7 linked regions of the Homo sapiens genome follow. The protein of the gene in region 7 interacts with the protein of the main gene of each other region in a biochemical or structural test. Each region holds a gene or a part of one and is shown on either strand. Other genes may lie near its edges. The genes, in order: CDC42EP5, EIF2AK2, TRIP10, OLA1, PICALM, CNBP and CDC42.

Region 1 (2,886 bases), on a different chromosome or scaffold from region 7:
GCGCGATCTCAGCTCACCACAACCTCTGCCTCCCAAGTTCAAGCGATTCTCCTGCCTCAGCCTCTCAAGTAGCTGGGATTACAGGCATGCACCACCACAACCAGCTAATTTTGTATTTTTTTTTTAGTAGAGATGGAGTTTCACCATGTTGGTCAGGCTGGTCTCAAAGTCCTGACCTCAGGTGATCCACCCGCTTCAGCCTCCAAAAGTGCTGGGATTACAGGTGTGAGCCACCATGCCTGGCTAGGGAATTTATATTATTATTTTAGAAAACATAAGACATCATATTGTTAGGTTGTAGTCTCAAGATCAGGTACAGTTGGCCAGGCGTGGTGGCTCATGCCTGTAATCCCAGCACTTCGGGAGGCCGAGGCGGGCAGATCACGAGGTCAGGAGTTCAAGACCAGCCTGACCAACATGGTGAAACCCTGTCTCTACTAAAAATACAAAAATTAGCGTCTCAAAAAAAAAAAAAAAAGATCAGGTACAGTTGCCCCTTGGTAGCAGTGATGGGACTGGTTCTGGGACCCCTATGGATACCCAAATATGCAGATGTTTAAGTCTCTTATATAAATGCCCTAGTATTTGCATATAACCTATGTACATCCTCTCCTACACTTTAAATCATCTCTAGATTACTTATAATGCATAATACAATGTAAATGCTTTGCAAATAATTGTTATATTGTTTGAAACTTGTACTCATTTTTTATTACTGTATTTTTTCCCCAGTATTTTTTATCAGCAGTTGATTGAATCTGCTGATGCGGAACCCACAGATACCAAGGACTGTAATTCAAATCATAAAATGCACCCTAGGCAAAGCCCACCTGGGCCTCTTCCTCGTGTGCGTGGTGGGCTCTAGGCAGGATCTGCTTTGCTTAATGGACAGAGTCAGCCCTGTCTTCAGAACAGGAGCCTGGGAATTTCCATTTTTGACAAGCTGGAGTTTTCTTTTTCTTTTTATTGAGACAGGGTTTCACTCCTGTTGCCCAGGCTGGAGTGCAGTGGCCAATACAGTGACACGATCTCGGCTCCCTGCAACCTCCGCCTCCGGGGTTCAAGCGATTCTCCTACTTTAGCTGGGATTACAGGCATGCGCCACCATGCCCCGCTAATTTTTGCATTTTTTATAGAGATGGGGTTTCACCATGTTGCTCAGGCTGGTCTCGAACTCCTGGCCTCAAGCGATCCGCCCGCCTCGGCCTCCCAAGGTGCTGGGATTACAGGAGTGAGCCACCGCACCCGGGCCAACAAGCTGGAGTTTTCTATCAGTCAAGTCTGGGAAGCACTCTGAAGGGTTTGTGAAATATTTGTTACTTGACCTCTAGGAAGGCTCAAGTATTCGCTCTCAGGAGGATCGGCATAGCATGGTGTTCATAGGCATTCTGGAGTCAGGTTAGATCCAAATGTGAGCTCAGCAGCTGTGCCCATGGGACCTCCTGGAGTCTCATCTTACCCCATCTGTGAAACGGGAGGCCGGGCGCGGTGGCTCACGCCTGTTATCCCAGCATTTTGGGAGACTGAGGCGGGTTGATCACCTGAGGTCAGGAGTTCAAGACCAGCCTGGCCAACATTGTGAAACCCCGTCTCTACAAAAATACAAAAATTGGCTGGGTATGGTGGCGGGTGCCTGTAATCCCAGCTACTCGGGAGACTGAGGAGGAAGAATCGCCTGAACCCGGGAGGCGGAGGTTGCGGTGAGCCGGGATGGCGCCATTGAACTCCAGCATGGGCGAGACTCCGTCTCAAAAACAAAAATCAAAAAACAAAAAACGGGAACCGTCCCCCATCGTCCTTTGAGCAGTCGCGTGGCTGCGAGCCCCGGGCTGGGGCCGCGCTGACCCTCCCGTGCCCCTCGCAGATGCCCGTGCTGAAGCAGCTGGGCCCCGCGCAGCCCAAGAAGCGGCCTGATCGCGGCGCCCTGTCCATCTCCGCGCCGCTCGGCGACTTCCGGCACACGCTGCACGTGGGGCGCGGCGGCGACGCCTTCGGGGACACCTCGTTCCTGAGCCGCCACGGCGGCGGGCCGCCCCCCGAGCCCCGGGCGCCCCCCGCGGGGGCCCCGCGCTCCCCGCCGCCGCCCGCCGTCCCGCAGTCCGCAGCGCCCTCGCCTGCCGACCCGCTGCTGTCCTTCCACCTGGATCTGGGGCCCTCCATGCTGGACGCGGTGCTGGGCGTCATGGACGCGGCGCGCCCGGAGGCGGCTGCCGCCAAGCCCGACGCGGAACCCCGCCCCGGGACGCAGCCCCCCCAGGCCCGCTGCCGCCCCAACGCGGACCTCGAGCTGAACGACGTCATCGGCCTCTAGGTTCCCTCATTCCCCGCGCCCTTCCCGCCCGGCACCCCACTTCTGTATACATAAACGGCCAAGGTGTGTGCCCGGGCTCTGACTTTTCACTTTGCACGTGGAAAGGGATGAATGATAGGGTCCTGGCGCCTCTGAGAGCCGGATGTGTCACCCGGAGGCCTGGTCCGGGTCCGATGATTGCCCTGGGGTGGGGGTGCGGCTCCTTTAAGAGAGCCCGAGGGCGTGGCCAGGCGGTGCCCCTTGCAGAGGCGGCGGCTCCCGCAGTCCCATTCGTCAAATACTGTGCGCCACCGCCGGCCGGACGTGGTCCTGGGGCCGGGCCAGACTCAGCCACCGCGGGGCCAGCCGAGGCGGGGCTGCAGAGTGCTGCAGCCCCAGGAGTCTTTCTGGCCCTGAACGCCTCAGGTGGACTCCGACCCGGCGGAGCCGCCGTTTACTCTGGGAGCGGCTGCAGAGGGAAGTGTCTGAGAACACTTTTAGAGCAGTAGGGGCCTGGTCTCCGTGGGGGAAGGGTCCGCAGGCATCTTGGTTCTTTAAGGCCCCCGAGGGATGGGGCCGAACATGCAAATGATTTG
Region 2 (3,500 bases), on a different chromosome or scaffold from region 7:
GCTATGAGAATTTATTTTTAGTTACCTTGAACTATTTTTGCTGTTCTCAGGATCATAATCACTGCTCTCAAGAGAATCATCACTGGTCTCAGGATCATAATCAAATCCATCCCAACAGCCATTGTAGTGAACAATATTTACATGATCAAGTTTTGCCAATGCTTTTACTTCACGCTCCGCCTTCCTAGTTAAAAGGAACAGGGAACATGGCAGTGTCAGTGTACATCCCTCATAACAACCACAAAACACCTCATGTAATAGACAACTGTCTACATTCCCTTATTAAACCATTGCTGTGGTTCTCACATAGTTTTAGAATGGAAGCCAGGACATTCAAAAGGAAAAAGTGAACATACTGAAAAAAAACATAGCAGTTCTCACTCTCAAGATAAAATAAAAGGCAGTGGCCGGGCGCGGTGGCTCAGGCCTGTAATCCCAGCACTTTGGGAGGCGAAGGTGGGCGGATCACGAGGTCAGGAGTTCAAGACCAGCCTGACCAACATGGTGAAACCCCATCTCTACTAAAAATACAAAAAATTTAGCTGGGCACAGTGGCGCATGTCTGTAATCCCAGCTACTTGGGAGGCTGAGGCAGGAGAATCGCTTGAATCCAGGAGGCGGAGGTTGCAGTGAGCCAAGATTGCACCACTGCACTCCAGCCTGGGCAAAAGAGCAAGACTCTGTCTCAAAAAATAAATAAATAAAAGGCAGCGACTTAATGCCAAGCATCAGACAATTTAAAAATCATCTGTAGTACTCTTGAAATGCCAGTGATGTCATTTTAATTAATTTATTTATTTTATTGAGACAGAGTCTTGCTCTGTCACCCAGGTTGGAGTGCAGTGGCACAATCTTGGCTCATTGCAGCCTCAACCTTCTAGCCTCAAACAATTCTCCCACCTCAGTCTCCTGAGTAGCTGGGACCACAGGAGCACACCACCACACCCATCTAATTTTTTCTATTTTCTGTAGAGATGGGGTTTTGCCACGCTGCCCATGCTGGTCTCAAACTCCTGGGATCTAGCAATCCACCTGCCTCAGCCTCCCAAAGTGCTGGGATTGCAAGCATGAGCCAATGGACCCAGCCAGTGCAATTTTTCATAGCTAAATCATACATTATGTTTTGCTTAGATTTGTGTTAAAATCTTTGTATTTCACAAGCAAACCACATTTAGGCAGCAAGGCTAGGTAACCCAGGCAGTGTGAAGTACCTAATTCAGGATTTTCAATGTGTGGCAAATATACACAAAGAGGATAACTTATGCAGAGAAGGTGAAATGGTGGAAGGCTTTACAGGGATGTGTTGCCAAGACCTAAGAAAATTCCATGCTAAGTGCAGTAAATAAATTGGAGATTTCAAAGATGAGGAAGAATAATCATTTTACAATTTTATTTTTTAATGCAAGAAGTTTTAAAGTATATGACACAAATTTGCAAAAATAAAAAAAATTACTGATACTTTGACAATCCTAAAATAATGTTATTTTAGATTCTTCCTTTTTTTTTTGAGACAGGGTCTCACTCTGTCACCCAGGCTGGAGTGCAGTGGCAATGTTGGCTCACTGCAACCTCCACCCCTAGGGCTCAAGCGATCCTCCTACCTCAGCCTCCCTAGTAGCTAGGACCACAGGCACACACCACCACACTTGGCTAGTTTTTATATTTTTTGTAGAGACAGGGTTTCTCCATGTTGCCCAGGTTGGTCTCGCACTCCTGACCTCAAGTGATCCACCAGCCTTGGCCTCTCAAAGTGGTAGGATTACAGGCCTGAGCCACTGCACCCAGCCAGTCATTTTTTTTGAGAAGAGTCTTGCTTTGTCGCCCAGGCTGGAGTGCAATGGCGCGATCTTGGCTCACTGCAACCTCCGCCTCCTGGGTTCAAGCGATTCTCCTGCCTCAGCCTCCCAAGTAGCTGGGACTACAGGCGTACGCTGCCATGCCCAGCTAATTTTTGTATTTTTAGTAGAGACAGAGTTTCACCATGTTGGCCAGATGGCCTCAGTCTCTTGACCTCGTGATCTGCCTGTCTTGGCCTCCCAAAGTGCTGGGATTACAGGCGTGAGCCACCATGCCTGGCCCAGCCAGTCATTTTTAATGGCTGCAAAACAGCCATCGATCAGGGGACAGAACAAAATATATATACTCATTTCTTTACTGCTGGATATTTTGTTTGTTCTAACTTTTTACTGTTAATGAATGACACTGTGATTTATATCTTCTTGGATATAAATCCATAATTTGAATAACATTCTTTTTTTTTTTTTGGAGATAGGGTCTCACTCTGTCACCCAGGCTGTAGTGCAGTGGTGTGACCATGGCTCACTGCAGCCTCCACCTACTGGGCTCAAATGGTCCTCCCACCTCAGCTTCTGAAGTAGCTGAGACTACAGGCGTGGCTACCACACCGGCCTAATTACTGTATTTTTTGTAGAGGTGGAGTTTTGCCATGTTGCCCCAGGCTAGTCTCAAACTCCTGGGCTCAAGTGATCCACTCACCTCAGCCTCCCTAAATAGTATTCTTTTTATTATTTTTATTTTTATTTTTTTTTGAGAGGGAGTTTCGCTTTTGTTGCCCAGGCTGGAGTGCAATGGCATGATCTGGGCTCACCACAAGCTCCGCCTCCCGGGTTCAAGCAATTCTTCTGACTCAGCCTCTCGAGAAGCTGAGATTACAGGCATGCGCCATCACACCCAGCTAATTTTGTATTTTCAGTAGAGAGGGGTTTCTCCATGTTGGTGAGGCTGGTCTCGAACTCCTGACCTCAGGTGATCCGCCTGCCACGGCCTCCCAAAGTGCTGGGATTACAGGCGTGAGCCACCACACCCAGTCCCTAAATAATATTCTTAGAACTCATCCCCTAGAATGACAAATTACGGGGTAGGGCCTATTTGGCCTCCCCTTGAATCTAAGCTGGCTTCAGTGACTTGTTTAACCAATATAACTTGATGGTAGTGACGTTCTGGAACTCCTCAGATTAGGTCAAAAGAAGCCTTGCCACTCACTCCTGATCTTTTGGATGACTTGTTCTGGGGACAATCCTTCTTGAAACCCAGCCACCAAGTTGTAAGAAGCCCAATCCCCATAGGGAGGCCATGTGGAGGTATTCTGATTGACAGTCCCAGCTGAACTTCCAGCCCACAGCCGGTGTCAACTGCTAGCCAGCTTGGATATCCAGCCTAAGATAGGCTGTAGTCAAGGTTTCAGATGACTACTGACTGCAAATCCCTCTGAGACCCCAAGTGAGAATTGTCCAGATGAGCACAATCAACCCATGGAACCATTAGAGACAACAATAAATTGCTGTTTTTAAGCACTGCATTTTGGAGCAGTGCCTTATACAATAACAGACAACCAGAGAACAATTACCATCTAGCTTTTATCTTAGACAAAATCACTTCACATCTCTGGATCTTAGTTTCCTCATCTATAAAATAAGAAGGTAAGACTAGAACATCTCAAAGATCACCTATTTTGTGGGTAATGATAGGTTCTATCTGGT
Region 3 (3,500 bases), on a different chromosome or scaffold from region 7:
CCTGAGGTGGGAGGATCACTTGAGCCCAGGAGTTTGAGGCTGCAGTGAGACGCAATCATGCCGCTGCACTGCAGCCTGGGTGACAGCAAGACCCTGTCTCAAAAAAAAAAAAAAAAAAAATCTACTCAAGGGTTGGGGTTAAGGAATATGGACCAGAATTTGTCATCGCTTCAGGGATTACATTCTTGGGGCTTAACCCTTTTCCACCTGGAGGTGCGTCCTGGGGCATCAGCCTGCTCGGGAGGAGGGGCCTGACTCCCTGTTCCCCGATTCTCATCCAACCCCAGATTCAGCCAGCAACAGTCCTTCGTACAGATTCTCCAGGAGGTGAATGACTTTGCAGGCCAGCGGGAGCTGGTGGCTGAGAACCTCAGTGTCCGTGTATGTCTTGAGCTGACCAAGTACTCACAAGAGATGAAACAGGAGAGGAAGATGGTGAGGAGCCCCCCGATTCAGGTTTTACAAAGGGCTTCTGCTGGAACCCTGGCGAGCCTTATCACTCTTCTTTCTGTAGCACTTCCAAGAAGGGCGGCGGGCCCAGCAGCAGCTGGAAAATGGCTTTAAACAGCTGGAGAATGTGAGTTTGCAGAGGTAGCAGTGACTGTGGCCCGGAGGCATGGGGGCAGGGTTGCGGATCCGGAGTCAGGGAGCTGCCCTCTTTGTCAGACCTGGACCTTCCCTCCCCCATAGGCTTCCAGTACTCCCTTGACCCCTACTTACTGGATGACATCCCAATAATCCCTGAAACCTTGGTTTCCCACCCTGCTGTCTTTGGGATGGTGGCTCCCTCACTCCGGTTCTGTCCCCTACACAGAGTAAGCGTAAATTTGAGCGGGACTGCCGGGAGGCAGAGAAGGCAGCCCAGACTGCTGAACGGCTAGACCAGGATATCAACGCCACCAAGGCTGATGTGGAGAAGGTGTGTGTGGCGGGGGCGGGGGGGGGGTGCGGGGTCTGGGACAAGCTTGGGGAGTCCGAGTGGGACGTGATCGGAACCTGGCAGTACCTTCCACCTCTGCATTCTTCAGGCCAAGCAGCAAGCCCACCTTCGGAGTCACATGGCCGAAGAAAGCAAAAACGAATATGCGGCTCAACTGCAGCGCTTCAACCGAGACCAAGCCCACTTCTATTTTTCACAGATGCCCCAGATATTCGATGTGAGTGCTCCCAGTTCTCAGACCTACCTTCCCGAAAGCCTCCAAATGTTAGCCAACTCCTACGCATTCATCAAAACCCCAGCTGCAATGTCCCAGTCCCTAGATTGAAAGGGAATCAGAAACCTATAGTAACAGTGAGCTGTGCTTTTAGTCAGCTGTTCTTCCTGCTGGGCATGCCTTTTACTTGTTTGTTTATTTACTTCTATAGAGAGATGGGGCCTGGCTCTGTCACCCGGGCAGGAGTGCAGTGGCATAATCACAGCTCACTGCAGCCTGGAACCCCTGTGCTCAAGTGACCTTTCTTTCTTTTTGAAATTCCTACTTATTCTTCTAAGCTCCACCTCTAACAACCCCTCTGAAAGGTCTCGAATTTCCCCTCTCCTGTTTCAATCTAGCGCTCCACTCTCTGTCCCATCCGTGGCCCTGGGAGTATCAGGGCTGGTTCTGCTTTTTCTTCAAATCCCTGTTCCCTTGTCTCCTCCTTTGAGAAGCCTTTGCTGACCCCCTAGGCACGCGTCCCCCTCTGAGATCCCCCTGGCCCTGTGTCTCTTCCCCAACCACAGTGGGCTGGAGTCTCTCTTCCCGACTCTGTCTTCCCCTCCAGACTGGCTTGGGGCTGGGGCCAGCGTGGAGCGCGATCATATTTGCAGAGTGAATCACTGTGCTTCTAGTCCCTCTGTTAGCACCCCTGAGCCACCCTTGTCCCTGTCCTTACAGAAGCTCCAAGACATGGATGAACGCAGGGCCACCCGCCTGGGTGCCGGGTATGGGCTCCTGTCGGAGGCCGAGCTGGAGGTGGTGCCCATAATAGCCAAGTGCTTGGAGGGCATGAAGGTGGCTGCAAATGCTGTGGATCCCAAGAACGTGGGTGCCTGGTCTGGGTCCACTGGGCTACGGGAAGGGCAGAGGGAGGTACCCATAGGCTAGGCACTCGACTGCTCATCCACTGTCCCCCTCCCCCAGGACTCCCACGTCCTTATAGAGCTGCACAAGTCAGGTTTTGCCCGCCCGGGCGACGTGGAATTCGAGGACTTCAGCCAGCCCATGAACCGTGCACCCTCCGACAGCAGTCTGGGCACCCCCTCGGATGGACGGCCTGAACTCCGAGGCCCGGGTCGCAGCCGCACCAAGCGCTGGCCTTTTGGCAAGAAGAACAAGGTGGGGGCCGGGACCCTTGGGATGGTGGGGGAGAAGGACAGTGAAGTGGGGACAGTGGGGCCCCTATTGAGTCAGCCCCAGCCGCCTGAACGCCGAGTCTCGGGCAGGAATTTTCCTCTTGGCTGCCAGCCCGGACTGGAGGGAAGGAAGGCGGCCGATTGGCCTGGGAGTCCCCCGAGGCGAAGGCGGGGGCAGGGTGGGGAGGTGGGGAGGTCCGTGGCGTTTGTCTGCTGCTTCTCGGGATGCTGGGAGAAAACCTGCTGGTGGAATTCAGGGCTGGCCTGAGGGCTGGTGACACCATCCCTGGGGACTCCCCGAGTTTCTCTCTCCATCCTGCTGATGGGACTCTGGGAGCCGCCCTGCATGTCTTGCTTTCTTGGGTTTTTGGATTTTAATATACCTTAGCACCCTTGGTTTATACCTTTGATTTATACTTTGGGTCCCTCTTCACTTACACTCTCATACCTCTCCTTGACTTAACACCTGTGATCCCCGAGCTTAAACTTCTGATGCCCCTAACCCCTCTCATTTTCCTGCCTTCCACTCCCTCTCGGCTTGTGGTTTTATTTTTGTTTATTTATTTTTGTCCTCTGTGGCCTCTTACCTGTCTGAGACCTTGATTCCTGCATGCGTCTTCTAGACTGTCAGCCCAGAAAGCTAAGTGGACAGAGAGACATGGGCCTCCCTGCCTCCTGGACCCATGCTTGCTCCCGGACATAACATTCCAGAGACCTAGGAGATACCGGGGGAGTGAGAGTTCTGGCTTTCGGGCTTACAGTTCAACATCCTCCCCGCCACCTTCCAGATTTTTTTGTGTCGCTCCTGCATGCGTTTTCTCTGTGTGGTTGTGCATCTTGAGTTGTGGTTTTCTTACCGTTTTTTTTCTTTCTCCATTTTGTTTTTCCTTTTTCCTTTTTTTGCGTCCATCCGTCCATCCGTGCGTCCATCCCTCCGTCCATTCGTCCTCACTCTCTACATCCTCCTATGCCCCCCCACCCCTTCAACCTATCCCCCTCCCCGGCCCCCGCCGGTAGCCTCGCCCCCCACCCCTCTCCCCCCTGGGGGGCCCCGTACCCTCGGCATTGCCTAACGGACCCCCGTCCCCCCGCTCCGGCCGTGACCCCTTGGCCATACTGAGCGAGATCAGTAAGTCGGTCAAACCGAGGCTAGCATCCTTCCGCAGCC
Region 4 (3,500 bases), on a different chromosome or scaffold from region 7:
AGCACAGCTTTCTCATCCATTTTAAACTTTTTAATAAGGAGAAAAATATTAAAATTAAACATTGCCGTTAAGTACATATATGTGGGTGTGTGTTTGTGTGTGTACAGAGATGATGCATCTGGGTATATCTGGTGAGGAAAAACTTACCATTTGTTTTTCTTTCTAATGTAGTCTTTTTCAGAAAGATTAACCAAGTAGACCATTGGTTTTGAAGTCAAAAATAAGTGTTTATTCAACACTTCAATCTAAAGTGGGAGATGGAGAAAGAATCCCTTTTAAAAGTTTAGTAAATATGGAGTAAATCACTGAAGAATTTGAAAGTAAACATTCCTTAAAACAAGTAGGCATTTTCATTTTTATAATTCTTCTTTCCAAAAGATTAGTGGTTATGAAATATCATGAGTGGGGGAAAAGAAAAAAATAACAAGCCCAGGAATAAGCAATCACTGACAGAAATAAAAATTTAGATATAATGGTAAGTGTAAAATAACAACAACTCTAATTTGTTCCCTAGCAAATGAAAGCAAAGGCAGTAATAGATGGCATGATATTTACAACTTACCTCTTTGTCATTCCAATCATGATAGAAGCGAACAGGTTTCTTTTGATCTATAACCCAGGATTTTACTTTGCACATTATATCCTACACATGATTGAGAAAAAGGTAAATATATATGAATAACTAAACATTTAGATACTAAATATTAAAAAGTTTTCAAATTTTCAAAATAAAAATAGATTGTTTTAATGAAAGGGGGCTAGGTCACACAAATAATTATTTTCAATATCTCATTTAAAAACCAATTACTAATAAAACATTGTGGCATTAAATTTTTAATGTATAAAATGGACAATATTAGCAAAAATTAGTAACAGCCTGAAAAATGTCAAGACAATTCAATTACATCAAAGACTAATACAAGAGTTACTACCATTTCAATATTACCTAGTGATGCCATATAGAAGACAAACATGCTATTAGAAAATGGAGTGAGGGGATATACTGAAGAAAGACTAAATTATATTTTTCCCCTAAGAAGAAAAACAAACAAGACAAAATTGAGCCTATTATCGATGATCCAGCCTCCAAAATATTAAATCAACTGACCAGATCCCTTTTTATTTTAGATTAATTTTTTGCCAACACCTTCTCCCTGCCCACTTCTCCCGCAGCCGCACCCCCAATACCCCCAACTCCCCCACCCCCCGAACCTGCCAAAGCCTCCATTACACAATGGCAAGAGCCCTGCACTGGTGACCTCCAACCAGCTGCATTCACTTTCAGAACATCTCTCTCTGCTGGAAATCTAAAGGCCTTTTAGTTAGCAAGCTAGTGTGCATTCAGAAGGAGTAACTGCAGGAAGAGCCCAATGTGCTTTGTTTCTCTGGCCTTTCTTCACAGAAAGATTAATCATCTGTGAAATGGAAACGGCAAACAGCAAGTGACACAAACTGAACCCTTCAAGCCTTTCCTCATCAGTTTTGTGGTTCTGAATCTAAAAGCTGCGTGTGGCAAGGTTCTCCTTACAGGCAGGTGTTAATAAAAGGCTCTGGGGTCTGAAAGGTCAAATTTAGCTCTTCCAGAAGAAGTGCATTTGAGAGTCATCTGGGTGTCTGTTGTTGTTGTTACTAAAGATAATTTATGGATATGTTTTAAATATGCATTTCTCAAAATTTATTGTAACACAATTATTAGTAATCAATTTCCTGGATTTTTATCAATGTATTTTACTTTACCATAATCAGTTATTCTTCTTTAAATATCCATTTGTATAAATTATCTCAATATTTAGTATACCTTCCTTCCAAATTTTGCTGTTACCAACAGGAAAAATAAGGAAAAAGCCTTATATCCTTAGATCCTGATTTGAAACCCTCCAGGCAAAGGACTTCCCACAGATTTTAACAAGGAAGGGGCAAGCTGAAAACTTTTAATGAAATCTAACATGTTCGGCTTAAGAATAATCACTTTTACTCTTCTATAACTGAATTTCACTCATAAATGTTTAAAAGTGGCTAATGTAACACCATTTCCTACAAGGAGAAGATCAAAGTGCTATATTACAAATGCATTATGATTAAAAAAGCCCTGTGCAGCCTTGCTATTAACTGTTCTTTAAACCCTAAAAGGCTTCCCATAGATCTCACTTGGCACTGCATATACAACCTTTGACAAGTAATGTAGACCATTTTTATTCATTGCCTAAAATTGTAGGCAATTATGTGCGTCACACTGGCCACCTGCAAATTCTGAATGCCTGCTCTAGTTGTCAGTGCAAAAAACTAATGTCGGAGGGGATTAATCTAGGGGGAGAGAGTCCTCTTTAATGGCTCCAGCAGGTGAAATGGCCCAGCTGGTTACTATGATGAGTGGCCAGAACAGCTTATGTAGAGACACGCAACAAGATTATACAAAAGAAAGAAAAAACAGTCGTACCATCTTATATTTGGTTCCATTAGTTTTTTCAATTAAAGAAAGAAAACAGACAAAAGAAAGCCAAACAAAAAATAGGGGAAGAAATTAAATTTTAATCATATAAAAAGTATAAAATACTTCTGTAACTACAAACATTTTTACAAAACCTCAGAGCCTCAATAAGTGCTGATCACCAGTGAAGGAATTTCAGTATTTCTCTTTCATTTTAAATTAACTGGACCATTATTTCAGATATAGAAATCTTATCACAAAAGCATTTTGGCATTTGCTTTTTCTCACATTACAAATTACATTACAAATTAGAAGCACTCAAAAAATTTTTTGCAGTCAAGTTTTAATTAAATAGAATTCACTTATAATCAAAGTTCTTGAACAGCACAGTATTCCTTAAAGCCACATTCAAATATTTTTAGAGAAATTTATATATTATAACCTAGTTTTTGGACAGTTGAAATAAAAACATTTTGTACTCAGTGCTCTCTTAATTATTCCCACAAAAGATTTAACAGCCAAGAAAAGACAACTTAGATTTACTAAAAGATGTCAGTTTTATTTAAGACAAATCAAAAATAGATTGCTTTTCAGATAAGACTATCTTATATAAATGATCAGTATATGGTATAGTTTCAATGTGCTCTTTTTCTTACATAAAGTAAAAATTCTAATTTTAGCAAAAAATTAAAAGATGTTATATTCTTTATCGGAAAAACTTCTAAACAGATGAAAGAAAACATTTGGGCTTGTTTGGATATAATACTTATTGGTTGATTGAATTTATTTCCTTATGTTCATATATATAAATACATATATAAATAACGATGATTAGAACAATAAAAGGTTCCAGTTAACTGAGCTTGGTTAACTGGAAAAAAAAATTGAATACCCAATGCATTCAGAAGTTGCCTTAGGTTCCATATTTCTTTACTATCATTATATAGAAATGCAGATGTAGGGGTACTAAATTGGGCTGTTTTGGTAACTTTAACAAATCCCTCATTTTCAAAATAAATTCTGTACATTATAGAGATACATAAAAATTCCTGGTCATTTGAACTTTTCGGTT
Region 5 (3,500 bases), on a different chromosome or scaffold from region 7:
AGAACTAAATTCAACAAACACCTACTAAGATTTCAGGGAGCAGGTAGCAACTGAGCATGCATACAGCAAGCAGTTCACGTAGTAAAACTTACACTGAGCTATTAGGCTCAGCTATTAGGAGTCAGTAGGCAGGCAGATGAGCTTTTAAGGGTGAGTTAATAAACAGCAACAACAAAGTGAAAGGAAAAAACTCACCACTCTCTATGGAACATTTAACATGTGCTAATAATGCACTGTGCTAAAACCTAGTCACCTGGGAGCATCTTAAAAACAAAAATTCTTGGGCCCCAGGCCCCACCTACTGAATCAAAACTCTAGGATTGGGACTCAGATATCTGTAGTTTAATAAACTCTCCAAATGCTTCTGATGTTAAAGTTGAGAACCACAGTCTCATCTGAAAACAAGGTTTCTCAAAAAAAGTTAAGAACTAACAGAGCCAGGATTCAAACCAGAATCTGACTTTTAAAACTACTTTAAGCCACTCTGAGGTTCAGAAAATGCCAATTGTTTTACTTTACCTGGCAATATTATATTTCCATGTTAAGTAGCTTAAATTAGACAACAAGATTATTAAAGTTAGTCTGGTAGGCTTCAATACCAAGAAACCTGGCAACTAAACTCTGTCACTGTGTTCCAGATTACAGAGTTTAAAACCAGGAAACAGATATGACAGACGTTTAATATCTAATGAAATGGTATTTTGAAATATATATCATATCCATATGTCAAAGAGCTATAAAGGGTCTTGAACCATTAGATGCCTCATAAATGTGTTTAATCATAATTTTTACACAATGAAAAGTTGGCCCAGAGATAACAGCTATATTCCTATTAGTATAAATCAGTGATTTAACTATCTTCCATTTCGTAAATACGTAAAATATAAACTCATCACTTTATCTTTAGGTATTATACCAATATCACCATTTATCGCCACCTCTTTGTGTGAATAGATTATAAAAGCATAAATAAAAGTAAACCTGAAAAGTTCTGCAAAATTTCTATTAGAAGTCTTTGAACCTACATATTCAAAGGTAACCTTAACTTCTACTCCTACCTGTTAGAAGAACTAGGGGTAGAAAATATGTCAATGGCTGGTGCAGTCATTATCCCTCCTGCTGAGGTGGATACAGGAGAGGCTGCAGTTGTTAAAGAGGTATGAGGTTTCTTTGCAAGTTCTTTTAGGCGCTGTTCCTGTTAAGAAAGGGAACTACCATAAGGATTCCAGAAACCAGATTTCTTTGTACAGCCTCTGAAAAAAGCATTTTCTAATTTGTTCTGATAGCAGATATTCTGTTTTACCTAATTCTATGTCAGGACGAAAAGTTAGACTGAGTTTCAGCCCATTAGGTAGCTATACATTTAAGACTCTAAGTCTGTGCAGAGGCCCCATTTACCTAATGAACACCTGTACTCATTTTTCGAAATAAGGAGAATGCACAAACTTACCTTTAAAGCTTTCAAACGTGCCTGTTCTTCCTCTAATGCTGCCTGCTTTTCCCTTTCATCCACTTTGGTCAGAGATAGACCAGTGCTTGCCAGGGAAGACACTGCATTGGAAAGTGTAGTTGCCCTAGGATAATTGAACAGAGATAATTTGGCTTTTTGCTAAACACTTCACATTACACCCAGGTCATGAAATGGTCTGGCAACCTTGCCATGGATAGGCACTATAATTATAAACTTAACTTCTGGATTCAAATCCAGTACTTCAGATGAAATATTCTACCTAGTGATCTACAGGATTAAAGCAATTAGAAAAATCTTGACTTAATATACACTCACTGCTTTCAGAGTAAGTGTTTGACTTTGGAAAGGGTTCACAACAGAGTGGGGCACATTGCCTCTTCCAAGCCCCAAGAGAGGAAACCAGTGCAATTGGGAAAGAGCCCACATAATCCCACAAAATCCCTGATGGGAAAAAGTGTTGAGTTTATCACAGGGAAAACCCTCTGCTAATTTACAGCCTACGTTTCGGCAGTGCCACAGGAACACCAAAACATGCATACCAGTAACACGTAACGTAAGTCTAGGTATGTTTCACCTATAACAACATCCCCAGAGGACTTCAGGTTCCTTCAAAAGAAGACTGGTTTCAATCTAGTCATCAGGCCATTTGGCATCTTTCTATGTGCTGCCCTTTTGCCAAACCAGAATTTCCTTTTTAATATACATGTACAATGTATCATTTTTCACTGGCAAGGCACCTCCTTTCCCTTTTATCAAAAACGTATCCACACTATAAACCTCAACATTAACTTTCCAAATGTTAACTCTAGGCTAAGTAAAACAAGTGGTAAAGAATTCTAACCTGAAGAACTACCTTGAGCTTTATTAATTTTCCTTTTACCACACACCAAACATCATTAGTTTCTACTCTTAAGCACGTAAAGTGGTAAAAACTACCTTTTAAATTTTATGTAATATTAGTATTATAAATAAGCCAATAAAAAGGTACAATTCAGAAGACAAAGGAAGAATAACATAGTTGTGACAGAAATGCAAGAAAACCAATAAATTTTATGATAAACATTTCAGGTAAATTGGTGCACCTGAACTACGTGGCTCTTTTTTTCGTTATTCTCTCAAATAAATGAGACTTATTGTTTTGACTGCTACTTCGAAAATCTTACTAGAAAATTCAAAGTACAAATCTAGGATTAAAAATGAGTACTAAAATCCAATAACGGCATTTCCCTTTGGAAATTATTTAAATTTTATTACTAAAAGAAAGATCAAAAGTTCTGAAACAACCAGAAAGTCTAAAAAGAACCAAAGGAAGGTTCTCACTATACAAATTCTTTCTTCATGCTGTTTTAAAAAAAGGTTCATAAGAAAACATGAGAATAACTCAAGTAATTTCTTAACCCAATACAAAAATCATGTTACCAGACTGATATGAAATGATTTCTGTTACTTTCAATTTGCTAGGTTAAATGGTCTTAGTCTGAGGAATTAGCTTAAAACATAATAAAGTGATTAAAATATAAAATATCAATAATCAACCCCATGAACTGGCATTAGGCAGAGATGATGCAATTTGATGTCAGATATTCTAGGTTTGAGTCCCAGCATTGCTACTACATACTTCACAGGGCTATTGTGAGGATTGAGCAAATTAATACGAAAGTATCTTGCAATTATAGGCCTGGCACGGTGGTTCATGCCTGTAATCCCAGCACTTTGGGAGGCTGAGGTGTGCAGATCACTTGAGTTCAGGGGTTCGAGACCAGCCTGCTCAACATGGTGAAACCCTGTCTCTACTAAAAATACAAAAATTAGCCGGCCGTGGTGGCATGCATCTGTAGTCCCACCCTTGGGAGGCTGAGGTGGGAGAATCGCTTGAACCCAGGAGGTGGAAGTTGCAAGTGAGTTGAGATTGTGCCACTGCACTCCAGCCTGGGCAATAGAGTGAGACTCTGCCTCGGGGGAAGAAAAAAAAAATGTATCTTATAACTACAAAGCACCACATAAAACAATGCATTAGCATCTTTAGGAG
Region 6 (3,953 bases), on a different chromosome or scaffold from region 7:
GGGCGTGGTGGCACACGCCTGTAATCCCAGCTACTTGGGAGGCTGAGGCAGGAGAATTGCTTGAGCCCGGGAGATGGAGGCTGCTGTGAGCCGAGACTGTGCCACTGCATTCCAGCCTGGCCGACAGAGAAAGACTCTGTCTCAAAAAAAAAAAAAAAAAAAAAAAAAAAGACAAGTAGAATTGTCATAAATCATGTAACAAAACACATTTATACTTTAAAAAAGACATCTCCCTGCCTGTTCCAGATGTTCAAATGCCAGTTTAAGAAAAACCTGGCCAGGCGCGGTGGCTCCTGCCTGTAATCCTAGCACTTTGAGAGGCCGAGGGAGTCGGATCACAAGGTCAGGAGTTCGAGACCAGCCTGGCCAACATGGTGAAACCCCGTCTGTACTAAAATACAAAAACTAGCTGGGTGTGGCGGCGGGCGCCTGTAATCCCAGCTACTTCGGAGGCTGAGGCAGGAGAATCGCTTAATCCGGGAGGCGGAGGTCGCAGTGAGCCGAGATCGCGCCACTGCACTCCAGCTTGGGCGACAGAGTGAGACTCCGTCTCAGAAAAAAAAAAAGAAAAACCCCTGGTCTTCCACTGATTTGGTTCAAAATATTTTACAGACTGCACCATCTGAAATACATTACCTCTCCTGTTACCAATATGAAAAAAAAGAGGACCTTTGGTTCCTCAGAAAAACACAAACTGTTATTTTTTTAAAGAAAAACTTATCAAGAGATGAAATCGGAAAAACTTAAGTCTTTAATTCTGCCCTTGGGAATGTAATAAATTATTCCTTTTATATTCCAATACACAAAGAACTCTTGTAGACAAGAATCAGGCTCAACAAACTAAAAACAGCATGTACCTAGGATCCTGGCAGTTTACAGGTGTTTGATTATCCTTAACCAGAGTAACTCATTAGAAGCATTTAAAACTATTTAGGAGGGGGGAGGGGGAAGCCCAGGAGATAAGTACTATATCTCTTATCTTTTTGAAACCCTCAAAGCTCTACACTCCAGTTATACTGCTTGAACAAACAAATAACATAAAATTGCTAATTTAAATTCGAATGGAAATAGTAACTGGTTACGTTTCACTCCAAAATTGGGTCAAACAATAGGAAAGGGGGAAAAATCTACTTTTAAAAATGTAATTTAAAAGCAAGATGGGGATATTCATTAGACCTCCTTCACTTTGAGAAAGACAAAAAACAAATTCAGTTTTGGCTTATCTCACCTGAGTCCTTCTGAATAATGCCTGAAACACACTAGCTAAAATCACAGACGATTACTGAGCAATGTTCTCTTTTTACAAGACCCCCAAGACCAGAAACAGTCACTTCCTTTGGAAGTGCCCTGTGGCTGAGGCCATATGGTTAACATGTGGGAACAAGCACAAGCCTTACCCATAATAAAATCAACACCTAAACCCAAATGTGGACCATTATGCCATTCTAAAACAGGTTCTCACGATATGGAAAAATCTAGATGGAGGGGAGCTAGTTGAATTTCGTGTCTCGTTTGTAATTACATCTGTTTCATTAATCCAAGAAATGATGCAGACTACCGCCCGCTGCTGTGGTTTTGGAGGTTTGACAAATTCGTGTTTTTTCTGGTAATGGCGCTTTTAAAGGATCCCAGCAACTTAAATAGTGTTAACTCTTGGAATGTGAGCCCCATCAGCCCCTTTTGGAATGGTAATGTAACACAAGCAACTTAGTATTTAAATGACGATAAAAATTCAAGAATCGGAAAACTATCAAGGATAGGGAGTATAAACTCTAAAAGCTCCCAAGTCTTCCAGCAGTCTCGCCACTCCAAACACAAAGGCTTCTTCAGGAACCCTTTGTTGTTGTTTGTTTGTTTGTTTGTTTGTTTTTTTAAGACGGAGTCTCTCTCTGTTGCCCATGCTGGAGTGTAGTGGCGCGATCTCGGCTCACCACAACCTCGGCCTCCGGGGTTCACGCGATTCTCCTGTCCAGCCTCCCGAGCTGCTGGGACTACATGCGCCCGCCACCATGCCCGGCTAATTTTTTATTTTTAGTACAGACCAACTTTCACCATATTGGTCAGGCTGGTCTCGAACTCCTGACCTCGTGATCCGCCCGCCTGGGACTCTCAAAGTGCTGGGATTACAGGCGTGAGCCACCGCGCCCGGCCTAAGAACCCTTTTCTAAGGCCCCCAAAACCCTTGGCACATGGCCCGCCAGGCGCACGACCCCAGCACATGGCCTGCACGACTATACCCACCCCATCCCCCCTTCATCCGCAGCCGGGAGCCTTTCCCCACCACACGGACTCCTTCCAGTGAGTTCCCGCCAAATCCACCCTCGGTCCCTCATTCCGCGACCCTCGAAGCGTCAGGGCCTCGGCCCCAAGGGCGCACGGGCGGGCCTCCTCTGCCCTAAGCCTGCGGCCTGGGGTGCGGCCGTGGCGCCGAAAGACCCGCATGCTCGGCGACCCAGCTTTCCAGGACGAAGAAAGGACAGAAGTGTCGTCCGACAGCGGTGCGCCAGAAACCCGGGTCCGAGGCGGCGGCAGCAGCCGAGCTTCCCGCCTGACGCAGCAGAGGCGCAGGCCAAAGTGCGGCCGCCATCGCCACCTCGCCGCTCCCTACCCTCTCTGTCCGCCACAGACCCGACCCGCACTGCGGCTCCGTCAGCGCCGGGCCCCTCCCCCAGCCCTCACCTTCCGCGTCGGAGCGGGCCCGCAGCGGCGGAGACTCGGACGCAGGCCTGGGGAAGACGGCTCGCAAGGTAGAGGCTGTTTATTTTGAGGGTCCTTGCCTGCGCCACACGCGGGTCTGCACACGGCCCCACATACGCCGCTGCGCACGGCTCTCCTCCGCCTCGCCCACGCGGCCAATCAGCGCGCGGGGTTCGGCAGTCCAATCAGAGCCGCCCGCGGCAGGGCCGCCCACTAGAGCGCGGCGCGGGGCGGGTGTTTCTGCGCGCAGCGTCTTTTCCCGCCGTGCCCCGCGCGCGGCCTTTCACGCCGGGATCCGGGTCCCGGTGCTTCTCGGTTCATTCCCAGCTGGGTCCGGGCCCGGCCAGACTGGGTGGAAATCTGGCTGACCTTGGTGGTCTGTCTTGGCCAGCTGGAGCAAAGGGATGCCAGGGGACGGGTCTCGGTGCAGTGACTGCCATTAGCTTGGGGCCGCAGAAAGTTTCTCCCCTTTCTCGGGCTCCTGCCAGGCCCTTGGCTTTCAGAGCCAGGCCCGATTTCTAGATAACATTTAAGTTTGCAGAAAAGGGGATGCCAAGTCACGGTGGTCACGGCTGTGGGATGCAGCCTCTGAGATTTGTATTAATTTTTGTGAGCCGGGGAAAGGCCTTGCTGCTTTCTCCGCCAGGACTGATGTGTCTTCCCAAGATGAAAGTGCCTGGTAAGGGCGAGGGGCCTCCCTGGGAAGGTCATGAGCATGTAAGGTAATGGGGCCTAGACTGTGACTTTTGGCACGTTTATGAGTGACATCCCCCGGGAGGGCAAGGATAACCATTTGACCTGGTCTGTCATATTCAGGAATAGACTTCAGTTTAGTTGTGGTATTTTCTCCAAAAGAGATTTGTGTATATAGCCCTAGATAGTCTTGTCAAGATTAAACCCAATTTAAACTGTTAACTATAAAATATTTTAGAATTTTGTCTCATTCTAGAATGGCTTTATTCGAAACAAAAAAAAAGGAAGAGTCCCAAGTTTCGTCTCAGTGAAACCTGCCAGTTCAACACTATGATTTATTTTTCTTTTTTTCTTTAATTTTTTTTTTTTTTAAGAGTAGGGTCTTGCTCTGTCGCTGGGTTTACAGGCATAAGCCACCAATCCCAAATCCCGGGGCTATGATTTTTGAAATCATGTTCGTGAGAAGGCAGAGCACATGTGTTGAGAGTCAGACTTTAAACCTGGGTTCAAATCATTAGTGCTTAATCATTGTAAAGCAGTTAGGAGGTTGCGTTCAACATAGC
Region 7 (3,500 bases):
GGTTGCGGTGAGCCGAGATTGCGCCATTGCACTCCAGCCTGGGCAACAAGAGCAAAACTCCGTCTCAAAAAAAAAAAAAATTAAGGCCCGGTGCAGAGGCTCACAACTGTAATCCCACAGCTCTGGGAGGCCAAGGTGGGAGGTCACTTGAGGCCAGGAGTTCAAGAACAACCTGGGCAACATAAAAAGGCCCCATTCTCTACAAAAATATATATATATATTTACAATTAGCCAAGTGTGGTGGTGCGTGCCTGCAATCCCAGCTACTTGGGAGGCTGAGGTTGGAGGATCCTTTAAGCCCAGGAGTTCAAGGTTACAGTGAGCTATAATCACACCACGCACTGCAGCCTGGTGACATAGCAAGACTCTATCTCTAAAAAATAAAAATAAAATTAAAAAATACGTAATTCGGCTGGGTGCGGTGGTTCACGCCTGTAATCCCAGCACTATGGGAGGCCAAGGTGGGTGGATCACCTGAGGTCGGGAGTTTGAGACCAGCCTGACCAGCATGGAGAAACTCCCAACATGGAGAAACCCCATCTCTACTAAAAATACAAGATCAGCCAGGCATGCTGGCACATGCCTGTAATCCCAGCTACTCGGGAGGTTGAGGCAGGAGAATCACTTGAACCCGGGAGGTGGAGGTTGCAGTGAGTGGAGATCATGCCATTGCACTCCAGCCTGGGCAACAAGGGCAAAACTCCATCTCAAAAAAAAAAAAAACTTTAAATAACACATTAGTTCCTGATAATGGGCAGACATGAGGCAATTCTACGTAATAGGCAGGAAGCAACAATTCCTTTAAAAACTAAATATGCTTCAGATTCATTTTCAGATTATGATCCTTGCAATAAATTGTGGTACACTGCCTAAAATAAACCAGGTTATGCTTCCATAGGAAAATAAAATGAAATAAAGCATTCACATTGTTTCCGAAATTTGAGACATCACTCTAGCAGTCCTGAAGAGGGTGCTTCAAGCCTTAATACACATAAAAATCATGTGGGGATCTTATTAAAATAAGATTCTGGGTCAGTAAGACTGGGATGAATCCTGATAGTTCTAATGAGCTCCCAGGTGACACTTATGCTGATGGGTCCACAGACTATACTGCATACCTGAGGCCTGACACCCTTGCTTCTATGACAACGGTAAAGGTAACGGATAAAAATGTAAAGGAGGCCGGAATGCAGCGGCTCACGCCTGTTAATTCCAGCACTTTGGGAGGCCGAGGCAGGCAGATCACGTGAGGTCAGGAGTTACAGACCAGCCTGACCAACATGGTGAAACCCCCCCACCTCTACTAAAAATACGAAAATTACCCGGGTGTGGTGGCGGACACCTGTAATCCCAGCTACTCAGGAGGCCGAAGCAGGAGAATCACTTGAACCCGGGAGGCAGAGGTTGCAGTGAGCCAAGATCATGCCACTGCACTCCAGCCTGGGTGACAGAGCGAGACTCTGTCTCAAAAAAAAAAGAAAAAAAAAAGGTAAAGCAATCTCCACTTCATTTAGAAATGTTTTTGGGCTAGACATAGTGGCTTATGCCTGTAATCCCAGTACTTTGAGAGGCCGAGACGGGCGGATCACCTGAGGTCAGGAGTTGGAGACCAGCCTGACCAACATAGAGAAACCCCATCTCTACGAAAAATACAAAATTAGCCAGGGGCGCTGACGCATGCCTGCAATCCCAGCTACTCAAGAGGCCGAGGCAGGAAAATTACTTGAATCCAGGAGGCGGAGGTTGCGGTGAGCCGAGATCGCGCCATTGCACTCCAGCCTGGGCAACAAGAGCAAAACTCCATCTCAAAAAAGAAAAAAGAAATGTTTTTGGATTCATCAGATTAGTCCGGGAGAAGGATGGTTATTAAAATGTTTATGTTTGAGAGAAACACAGCTTCTCAAAGATGGCGGGGAAGGGTCCTCACAGTTGTGCCAAGAGCAAAAATCTATACAGCACTCACTATGTGCCAGTGAACAGTCCTAAACACTTCATATATATTAATTCAATCTTCCTAACACTGCAGCCCTGTTAGGTAAGCACTACTGCTACCCCTATTTTAGAGGAAGTAAACCTGAGTCACAAAGACGTTACTTAGACTGCACATACCTAATAAGTGGCAGAACCAGGATCTGAACCCAGGCAGTCTGGTTCCAGAGTCTATGCTTTTAATCATTATAGTAGCAATATACCAATCAAGAACACACAGCAGAATTGAAATGGCAAATGGCAATGGCTTAATTTTACAGAAAAGGATGCAAGGTTAAAGTGTAAAGCATTACAGAACAACAGTAACAGAGCCTAAATCAGACTTTGTCTTAAGGTGATAGAGCACCAGTGCTTAGTGAATACCATGGCTGAACAATATAGTTTTCTGCTCTATTAGAAATTGTTCTGGACTTTAGTATAATGGCTAATGCCAAATCTTTGATTTAAAAAATATTTTTCTAAAATTGCAAAAAGGGACGCCACATTGGTGGCAGAAAGCCTGGTTTCACTTCACGGAATAAGCAGTTTGAGATCAATGTCCCAGAAGAGTTTTGACATTCAGGACTTAAAATAGCAGCAGCAGCAGCAGAGGTAGCTGAAATGGCAAGTAATGAAAATTGCTTTAGTAAAAATATTTTGGACTGAAGGTATGAGAAACTAAAAGTAGAAACTAGTAAGACACAAAGCATAACATGACCAGGAATCTGATACAGTAGTGAACAAGCGGTAAAAGTTATTTGCAAACAAAGAAATAAAGGAAGATAAGGAAACAAACATTAAGTGAATAATTTTTAGGAGAGTAAGAGAACTAGTAGTCATCACAGATTTTCTAAGTGATGGTAAATTGTCCAGACAGTGCAGCTGCAGAAGATACTGACCTAAACAGATGGAAAAAGTCAAGCAAGAGTAGATTAGTAATCACTACTTCAATGAGCCCAAATAAAGATATGGCTGACCAAGCACAAAAGCTGTCTCAGGAAACACAGCAAAAAGGCCCATGGAATATTAGGGAAAACGTTAACCCTCAGACATCATCAAATTCATTCACTTAAAAAATATTTCTTAAAACCTACTGTATGTATGGCAGTATTCTAGGCATTAGCAATGGGGTGACCATGCCAGGCCAAAGCCCTGCCCTCACAGAACTTACAATCTAATGAGGAAATCTATGTGGAAGAGAACACTGAATAAGGCATTACCATAAAATTCCAGAATGAAGCCTTTTAATACAGAGAGATATTTTCATGGAAGATATGTTAACACAATATTTAACCCTCTCTCCCCTTCAAAGGAAGCCCTGTAGCCTAAGGTGCTCATTGTTTCTCATCCTCTCAAAAAAAAAAAAAAAAAAACTCTAAAACAATAGAGAAGTGCATTTAAAATACATCTATAAATAAAAGCACAACTAGTCTTTTACTTCCAAGAAAGCCTGTCAGCGGCACAGCAGCTCATGCCTATATCCCAGCACTTTCAGAGGCCAACAGGAGCAAATAGCTTGAGTTCAGGCATTC

What was found.
Region 1: the proteins of CDC42 (region 7) and CDC42EP5 form a complex in vitro, tested with the Homo sapiens proteins (2 studies listed by BioGRID).
Region 2: the proteins of CDC42 (region 7) and EIF2AK2 form a complex in vitro, tested with the Homo sapiens proteins (2 studies listed by BioGRID and IntAct).
Region 3: the proteins of CDC42 (region 7) and TRIP10 form a complex in vitro, tested with the Homo sapiens proteins (3 studies listed by BioGRID and IntAct).
Region 4: the proteins of CDC42 (region 7) and OLA1 form a complex in vitro, tested with the Homo sapiens proteins (one large-scale study listed by BioGRID).
Region 5: the proteins of CDC42 (region 7) and PICALM form a complex in vitro, tested with the Homo sapiens proteins (one large-scale study listed by BioGRID).
Region 6: the proteins of CDC42 (region 7) and CNBP form a complex in vitro, tested with the Homo sapiens proteins (one large-scale study listed by BioGRID).

What each region holds. Positions count from the first base shown.
Region 1 is NC_000019.10:54,464,526-54,467,411, reverse strand, and holds the end of CDC42EP5 (cdc42 effector protein 5), read left to right. Parts: intron 1-1,864; coding exon 1,865-2,311; 3' UTR 2,312-2,386; downstream 2,387-2,886. UniProt on the Homo sapiens protein: Probably involved in the organization of the actin cytoskeleton. May act downstream of CDC42 to induce actin filament assembly leading to cell shape changes. Induces pseudopodia formation in fibroblasts. Inhibits MAPK8 independently of CDC42 binding.
Region 2 is NC_000002.12:37,122,481-37,125,980, forward strand, and holds part of EIF2AK2 (interferon-induced, double-stranded RNA-activated protein kinase), read right to left. Parts: intron 185-3,500; coding exon 26-184; intron 1-25.
Region 3 is NC_000019.10:6,742,680-6,746,179, forward strand, and holds part of TRIP10 (cdc42-interacting protein 4), read left to right. Parts: intron 1-287; coding exon 288-435; intron 436-514; coding exon 515-577; intron 578-814; coding exon 815-919; intron 920-1,028; coding exon 1,029-1,157; intron 1,158-1,874; coding exon 1,875-2,021; intron 2,022-2,120; coding exon 2,121-2,315; intron 2,316-2,955; coding exon of another isoform or gene 2,956-2,976; exon of another isoform or gene 2,977-3,055; intron 3,056-3,349; coding exon 3,350-3,500. UniProt on the Homo sapiens protein: Required for translocation of GLUT4 to the plasma membrane in response to insulin signaling. Required to coordinate membrane tubulation with reorganization of the actin cytoskeleton during endocytosis.
Region 4 is NC_000002.12:174,123,033-174,126,532, forward strand, and holds part of OLA1 (obg-like ATPase 1), read right to left. Parts: intron 644-3,500; coding exon 563-643; intron 246-562; coding exon 148-245; intron 1-147. UniProt on the Homo sapiens protein: Hydrolyzes ATP, and can also hydrolyze GTP with lower efficiency. Has lower affinity for GTP.
Region 5 is NC_000011.10:85,999,585-86,003,084, forward strand, and holds part of PICALM (phosphatidylinositol-binding clathrin assembly protein), read right to left. Parts: intron 1,575-3,500; coding exon 1,451-1,574; intron 1,196-1,450; coding exon 1,059-1,195; intron 1-1,058. UniProt on the Homo sapiens protein: Cytoplasmic adapter protein that plays a critical role in clathrin-mediated endocytosis which is important in processes such as internalization of cell receptors, synaptic transmission or removal of apoptotic cells.
Region 6 is NC_000003.12:129,181,097-129,185,049, forward strand, and holds the start of CNBP (CCHC-type zinc finger nucleic acid binding protein), read right to left. Parts: upstream 2,801-3,953; 5' UTR 2,680-2,800; intron 1-2,679. UniProt on the Homo sapiens protein: Single-stranded DNA-binding protein that preferentially binds to the sterol regulatory element (SRE) sequence 5'-GTGCGGTG-3', and thereby mediates transcriptional repression. Has a role as transactivator of the Myc promoter.
Region 7 is NC_000001.11:22,055,709-22,059,208, reverse strand, and holds part of CDC42 (cell division control protein 42 homolog isoform 1 precursor), read right to left. Parts: intron 1-3,500. UniProt on the Homo sapiens protein: Plasma membrane-associated small GTPase which cycles between an active GTP-bound and an inactive GDP-bound state. In active state binds to a variety of effector proteins to regulate cellular responses. Involved in epithelial cell polarization processes.